Linked DNA regions of Homo sapiens. The protein of the gene in region 1 interacts with the protein of each later gene in a pairwise test. Each region holds a gene or a part of one and is shown in the gene's direction. Other genes may lie near its edges. The genes, in order: NLRP3 and PGM1.

Evidence for each region.
Region 2: the proteins of NLRP3 (region 1) and PGM1 interact in a two-hybrid assay, tested with the Homo sapiens proteins (one large-scale study listed by BioGRID).

What each region holds. Positions count from the first base shown.
Region 1 is NC_000001.11:247,436,562-247,440,386, forward strand, and holds part of NLRP3 (NACHT, LRR and PYD domains-containing protein 3), read left to right. Parts: intron 1-2,719; exon of another isoform or gene 2,720-2,972; intron 2,973-3,825. UniProt on the Homo sapiens protein: Sensor component of the NLRP3 inflammasome, which mediates inflammasome activation in response to defects in membrane integrity, leading to secretion of inflammatory cytokines IL1B and IL18 and pyroptosis.
Region 2 is NC_000001.11:63,655,740-63,659,564, forward strand, and holds part of PGM1 (phosphoglucomutase-1), read left to right. Parts: intron 1-3,825. UniProt on the Homo sapiens protein: Catalyzes the reversible isomerization of alpha-D-glucose 1-phosphate to alpha-D-glucose 6-phosphate. The mechanism proceeds via the intermediate compound alpha-D-glucose 1,6-bisphosphate.

The sequences.
Region 1 (3,825 bases):
CAGCCTCTATATCCTCAACAGTGTCATGGCTCAGCACCTTCACCTATGTAGCCATGCTCTCCCAGGTACACAGGCTGGTTTGTTAGTGTCTGTCTTTGAAATGTGGTGCCCAGACCTGATGATGCATGGTGGATGTTTTACCTCCTGTTGCAGAGAACTATGGTTTCACTGGTGGAATCTCTGATTTCCTTGTTTTTTTTGGCAGTTACATAAGCCTTTTGATTCATGTTGGAATTCTGCAGTAAACAGTAGTAGGGAATACCCACTAATAATCATGCACTTTCCCTGTACCACTTTCCTGTATCACTTTCCCTGTATCACCTGCTCTTTCATGTTCTTACATGGATTTTCTCAGTTGGCTTCAGAAAGATGCTATAGGGTAGGGTATCTGTGTCTCCAATTTAAAGAGGAGAAAATAAAATTCAGGGAGCCTCATAACTTTGTCCAAGGACACTCAGAGAGAAGGTAGTGGAACTCAGTGTAGACAAACGTCTGTGACCTCCCAAGCCACTGCCTTAATTCCCAGTGCATTGCCTTAGGAGATGTTGCTAATGGGCTCTCTACAGGGCTTCTTCATCTGGCTCTCAGCTTAAGGGTGGGACCTCCAATTTAGCTTTGCTAAACCTCATCTTACCTGTCTTTTGACCCATTGACTAGGCAGTTTTGAATCTTCATTCTGACAATAATATCTACAAATACAATAAGCAAATTGGATAGGTCTTCATTCATTCACATTATTAATATATATACCAGCCAGATCAGCATTCAAGACAAAATTTGGCAGGAAAGGTCTTCCCAGAGGAGTAATCCACTAATCCATAATTAACAACCAACCTCTGTTCACAAAGCTCTGATACTTCCTTGGACCTCTCCCATCAGCCAATCCTCAGATGTGACCATATCTCTTTCTATGAAGTCTTCCTGCAGTGCCTTCATTTCCTCGCCTTAGGGTATTACCCTTCCTTAGCAAATCGCCTTAGAATATTACTCTTCCTTGGCAATTTGACTTCTGCTTCTCTAAGTTTGTTCAACAGACATGATTTTGTCCCTTCATTTTGCAGGCCCTCTGGGGGCTCTGTGGTGGGCACTGACAGCAGCAGTGAGTAAAACAGACCAAAATCCTGTTTTCACAACCGTTCTTTTAGGGAAGTGATAACAGATAATAGACATGCTAAACAATATACCCTGTGTATAAGAGCTATAAGAAAAACTGGAGTGACGGCGAGGGGTGCTTCTCTGCTCACGTTTGGCGAGTGCCTCTCCGAGCGGGTGACATTGGAGCAGGTGCTCAGTGAAGCGTGGGATGGGCTGTGAAGGAGCCGGAAGAGCCCTCCAGGCAAAGCAGATGGAACCGAAGAGGCCCAGGCGTAGGCACTCAGGTGACTCTCAGTGATCCTGGTTCCAAATTCCACATGACAAACAAGCCAATTACAAATGTGCCTGATGCATCTGTAATATGCTCTATGTAGTTACTATTGTCAATACCTAACCTGGTAGAGCTGCTGTAATAAAGTATCACAAACAGAGCGGCCTAAACAACAAGAGTTTATTGCCTCTCAGTTCAGGAGGCCAAAGTCTGAGACTGAGGCATCAGCAGGCTGGGTCCTTATAGGTCGTACAGGTCCTTCCCAGTCCTTACTTTAGTTGACATCTGCTGCCTTTAATTCATTTCACTCTTCCTCTTTGGAAGCCTTCTTCGCTCTTATTTTTAGGTCACTACTTAGTCTTTCCTGCTAATGTTATAGCTTCCCCCTCCCTGGATCCTGCATTGGCTTCTCTTCCTGTGGTCTGGGGATTTCACGACTGGTTTAGTTGTGTTTTTTTTTTTTTTTTTTTTTTTGAGTTGGAGTCTTACTCTGTCACCCAGGCTAAAATGCAGTGGCGCAATCTTGGCTCACTGCAACCTCTGCCTCCCGGGTTCCAACAATTCTTCTGCCTCAGCCTTCTGAGTAGCAGGGACTACAGGTGTGCACTGCCATGCCTGGCTAATTTTTGTATTTTTAGTAGATACGGGGTTTCACCATGTTTGCCAGGCTGGTCTCGAATTTCTGACCTCAGGTGATCTGCCTGCCTTGGCCTCCCAAAGTGTTGGGATTACAGGCGTGAGCCACACACCCGCCTGGTTTACCTTTTTTGTTGTTGTTGTTACTAAATATTTCTAAACTCCCTGAGAATTCTCATATACCTCTCAATTTCAACAACAGTAGGTCTCAAACCCAGATATCATTCACAAACTTTTTATTAGAAAAGTAACACATGCTTGGTGTAAACATATCATAGTACAGACAAAGTGGAAAGTGAAAGCTCCTTCTCAGCCCTCTTCTGAGAGAGCCATTTACAATAGTCTGATGAACAACCATCCAGACTTTTTTTAATACAATAGATTGTTATATAATCCATTCATCTGTCCATCCATCCATCCATCCATCATCCATCCCTCTATTTTCCATCCGTCAATCCATCCATCCATCCATCCATCCATCCATCCATCCATCCATCAATCCATCCAAGGGAGTATCAGAGCTTTGTGAACATATATTGGTTGCTAATTATGGACAAATGGATTTCCTGTATATGCTGATCTGGGTGGTATTTATATCAGTAATGTGAATGAAGACCTATGTGATTTTCATGTTGCATTTGTAATACATTGTTATGTAGTATTTTAAATGCCTAGTCTGTTAGAGCTACTGTAATAAAGTATCACAAACAGAGCAGCTTAAACAACAGAAATTTATTGTCCCTCAGTTCTGGAGGCCAGAAGTGTGAGATTAAGATGCTAGCAGGCTGGGTCCTTCTGAGGGCTGTGGGGAATCTGTTCATGCTTCTCTTTGGCTTCTGGTGGAATGTCATCTTGCTGACACATTTTGCCATTCCTTGACCTGTAGATGCCTCTGCCACACCATTGCCTTTATCTCTACGTGGTGTCTTCCCTGTGTCTGTGTGTGTCTTTCTCCATGTCCCAAGTTTCCCTGTGAAAGAACACAAGTCATGTTAGATTTGTAACGACCTGATCTTAACTAATTACATTTTCAGTAACCGTATCACCAAATAAGGTCACAATCTGAAGTACTGGGGCCTAGGACTTCCACATATAAAGTCTTAGAGGAAACAATTCAATCCATAACACCCTATCTATTGAAACTAGAACCATAATATAAATATTTTTCTGTGATATCCTTTTTTCATTTATCATGGATAAATTTCCATGCTGATTTGTGTAGATCTATCGATTGGGGCATAATATCCCATAGTGTGCTTTACCATAATTTATTTAATCAAATCATGCATTTTGGGATAACTGTTCTTTTCCACTATTACAAACAACTCTGCAAAAAGCACATTTGTATATATAGTTTTATGCATGTGTATTTGCTTTGAGATAGGTATCTATAAGTGGCATTAATCAGTCGAGACTTTTATGCATTTTATGTGTTAGGTACAGCCATACATGTGGCTGTGTGTTAGGTATAGCCTATGGGTTAGGCATAGCCTGTGTGTTAGGTATAGCCTATGGGTTAGGTATAGCCTACGTGTTAGGTATAGCCTATGTGTTAGGTATAGCCTATGTGTTAGGTATAGCTACATTTTTTTCTCTCGAACTTTGGGTCCTCATCTCTGGCTGCATATTGTGTACTGCCTGTCTCAATACTGCTCAAGGGTCACACATGCTGAGCATTTGCAACATTGGTTTAATTATCATACCCCACCTTCCACCCCCGTTCTCTGACCTGCTCCTGCCCTCTTCCTCCTGCCTCATTGAATAGTGGGGCTTTCCAGGAGGCTGCTGAGTGAGTAAACGGGGGACGGTCCTAAATGCTCTGC
Region 2 (3,825 bases), about 180 Mb from region 1:
AAGGCTCCAAGATTTCGGACATGGTGGCCTGCACCTGTGGTCCCAGCTACTCAGGAAGCTGAGGCAGGAAGATCACTTGAGCGTAGGAGTTCTGGGCTATAGTGTGCTATGCCTGTCGGGTGTCTGCACTAAGTTTGGCATCAATATGGTACCTCCCGAGAGGGGAACCACCAGGTTGCATAAGGAGGGGTGAACCGGCCCAAGTTGGAAACAGAGCAGGTCAAAACTCCCATGCCGATGAGTAGTGGGATTGCACCTGTGAATACCCACTGCGCTTCAGCCTGGTGACATAGCAAGACCCCATCTCTAAAAAAAGAAAAGGAAAGAAAAAAAGAGGGTGCTGAGAAGACTTGCAGTAAAGGTGCCTGTTTACATAGCATTTGCTGAAGGACATTTCTCCAAAGAAAACATACAAATGGCCAACAGGCGTATGAAAAGGTGGTCCACATCACTAATCATCAGGGAAATGAAAATCAAAACCACAATGAGCTGTCACCTCACACCTGTTAGGATGGCTGTTCTCAAAAAGACAAAAGATAACAAGTGTTGGGAAGGATGTGGAGAAAAGGGAACCATCAGACACTATTGGTGGGAATATAAATTGGTATAGCTATTTTGGAATAACCAAAATATGGAGGTTCCTCAAAAAGTTAAAAATATTTTAGTACTAATATACGATCCAGTAATCCCTCTTCTGGGTATATATTCAGAGGAACTGAAATAAATATGTCAAAGAGATATCTGTTCTCTCTTGTTCATTCAATATTATTCACAATAGTCAAGATATGGAACCAGCCTAAGTGCCCATCTACAGATGAATGAAGACATTGTGGTGTGTGTGTGTGTGTGTGTGTGTGTGTGTGTGTGTATACCACAATGGAAAATTATTCTGCCTTAAAACAACAAAAACCAAAATCTTGCCAATCTTGCCATTTGCAATAACATGGATGAACCTGGAGGACATTATGCTAAGTGAAATAAGCCAGACACAGAAAGGCAAATACTGCATGATTTCACTTGTATGTGGGATCTAAAAAAAGTGAATCTCATAGAAACAGAGCAGAAAGGGGCTTACTAGGGGGTAGTGAATGGGGAAAATGGAGAGATATTGGTCCAAAGGGTACAAAATTTCAGTTATGTAGGATGTAGCAGTTCTAGAGATGGAATGTACAACATGATGGCTATAATGAATAACACTTGAAATGTACTAGGAGAATAGATCTTAATTGTTCTCACTATCACCACCACAACAAAAAAGGTAAGTAGGTGACAAGATTGATAATGTTAGTTGGCTTGACTCTAGTAATCAGTTCACTATGTATTTGTATATCAAGACATCATATTATATACCTTAAACATAAACAATTTTTATTAAAAAATTGAAAGTAAAATAAAATAAATAGCATTTGCCATGCTTATTTTTCCACAAAGGCTTTTTTCTTTTAACACCTAATTAAAATCCTGTGAAACTCATTTGGAAACCCCTGGCATAGTGGTTTTGAGCAAAGTTAAAGAGATCTTGTTTTAAATTCTATTCCTGCCACTTAATAACTGTGTGTCCCTGGGTAAGTTGTTACAATTTTATGAATCTTGGTTTCCTTGTCTGTCAAATGGCAGAGTAATACCTACTTCATCTAGTTGTTACCGGGGTTTAAGGAGATAATAAATGTAAAATGTTTAAACACTGTGGCTGGCATATAGGATTAACTTTTCAGAATAAGCAGCACTCTTAGTTTTTTTAGTCTAACTTTAAGTGTAACATAATGCTATTATAACCATTTTTAAGTATATAGTTTAGTAATGTTGTACATATTCATATTGTTGTCCAACGTATCTCTAAAACTTTTTTCCCCCAAAACTAAAACTCTGTACCCATTGAACAGCACCTCCCTGCTTCTCCCTTTTCACAATCCCTGGTACCACCTTTCTCCTTCCTGTGTCTGTGAATTTGACCATTGTAGGTACCTCACATGAGTAGTATAGTTGCTTTTATTACAGAAAGTGGGAGATGAGAGAATGCTTCACTTTTACATTTTTTCCAGTGGCCAGGCCCCAGTTTCAGTCATCACCAGTACCTTGTTGTGTTGTAGGCATCCCTAAAACTTCAACCAAAGGCAATGGGGTCTGCATTATAGACACTTAATAGCACAAGAGAAAAGGAAGAAGGAAATTGTGTTTGTCTTTTGATCATCAAGATAAATGCCTGGCACGTGGTAGATTCAAAGAGTGAATGAAATTTGTTTCCTCTGAACCATAGTCCTCAGCAGGTGGAATGGCAGTGGATGGTGTGAGGTTCCCACAATGCCCAGGTGTATCACCATCTAGCCGGGGAGCTGCCTTTCCTTATTCTGCAGCTGCTAGGCCATCAGCACTTTGTGGGGACTGCCCAAGCCCTAAGGGGAAATGTGGTAGTTTCAGCAGGTGGAGTTGATTCTCCTTTTCCAGGTATAATGGATCGGTGGAGATTTAGATAAGAAAAAGTAGCATTCAGCAGTAGAAAATGTACTACTCCTGGCTCTGCTATTGAGTCATTTAGTCAAATCACTTCATCTCTTTGGGTATCAGTTTTCTCATCTGTAAAATGGGCAGTTCAACCAGATTAGTAGTTTTTTTTTTTTTTTAATATTGAAAGCATTTATTAAGCAACAGAATTCTCTCTTTTTTTTTTTTTTCTTTAAGCGAGAAGTAGATGTGGGGAGGGGTTGTTGCATTTTTAAAGATTCCTGTATTAGGCCGGGTGCGGTGGCTCACGCCTGTAATCCCAACACTTTGGGAGGCCAAGGCAGGCAGATCACCTGAGGTCGGGAGTTCAAGACCAGCCTGACCAACATGGAGAAACCCCATCTCTACTAAAAATACAAAATTAGCCGGGCGTGGTGGCGCATGCCTGTAATCCCAGTCACTAGAGAGGCTGAGGCAGGAGAATTGCTTGAACCTGGGAGCCAGAGATTGTGGTGAGCCAAGATCGCAGCATTGCACTCCAGCCTGGGCAACAAGAGTGAAACTCCATCTCAAAAAAAAAAAAAAAAGATTCCTGTATTAGTCTGTTTTCACACTGCTGATAAAGACATACCTGAGACTGGGCAATTTACAAAAGAAAGAGGTTTAATTGGACTTACACTTCACGTGGCTGGGGAAGCCTCACAATCATGGTGGAAGGCAAGAAAGAGCAAGTCATGTCTTACATGAATGGCAGCAGGCAAAAGAGAGAAATTGTGCAGGGAAACTCCTGTTTTTAAAACCATTAGATCTCATGAGACCCATTCACTATCATGAGAACAGCACAGAAAAGACCCACCCCCATGATTCAATCATCTCCCACCGGGTCCCTCCCACAACACTTGGGAATTATGGGAGCTACAAGATGAGATTTGAGTGGGGACACAGAGCCAAACCACATCAGTCCCATTGGGAACAGTGTGGGAAAGAAATTGGAAGATGCACAAGTGGATGTGGAGGCACTCACTGCTCCAGGTAAGAGACAGGACATTGACTTAGCAAGACTTAACAGCAGGAGAGTGGAGAGAAAAGGGGGCCATGGAGAGAGATTTAGCGGGGAAAAGTCATTGAGGCCTGCTCATGGACTGGGCATGGGGAAAATGCAGAGGAAGATGTCAGGAGCAACTCCTAGTTGTTCACTTTACATGAAAGACTGTAGTGTTGATCCACTGAAATAGAAACTGCTGGAACTAGGTATTGGGGGAAATAACATGTGTTTGTTTTTGGATTTGTGGAGTTTGAGGAGCCTTGGAGACCTGGAAGTAGGCAGTCAGACGTACGGGTTTGGAGCTAAGCATCTGTGTTTAGAGGAAGTGATGGAAAAGC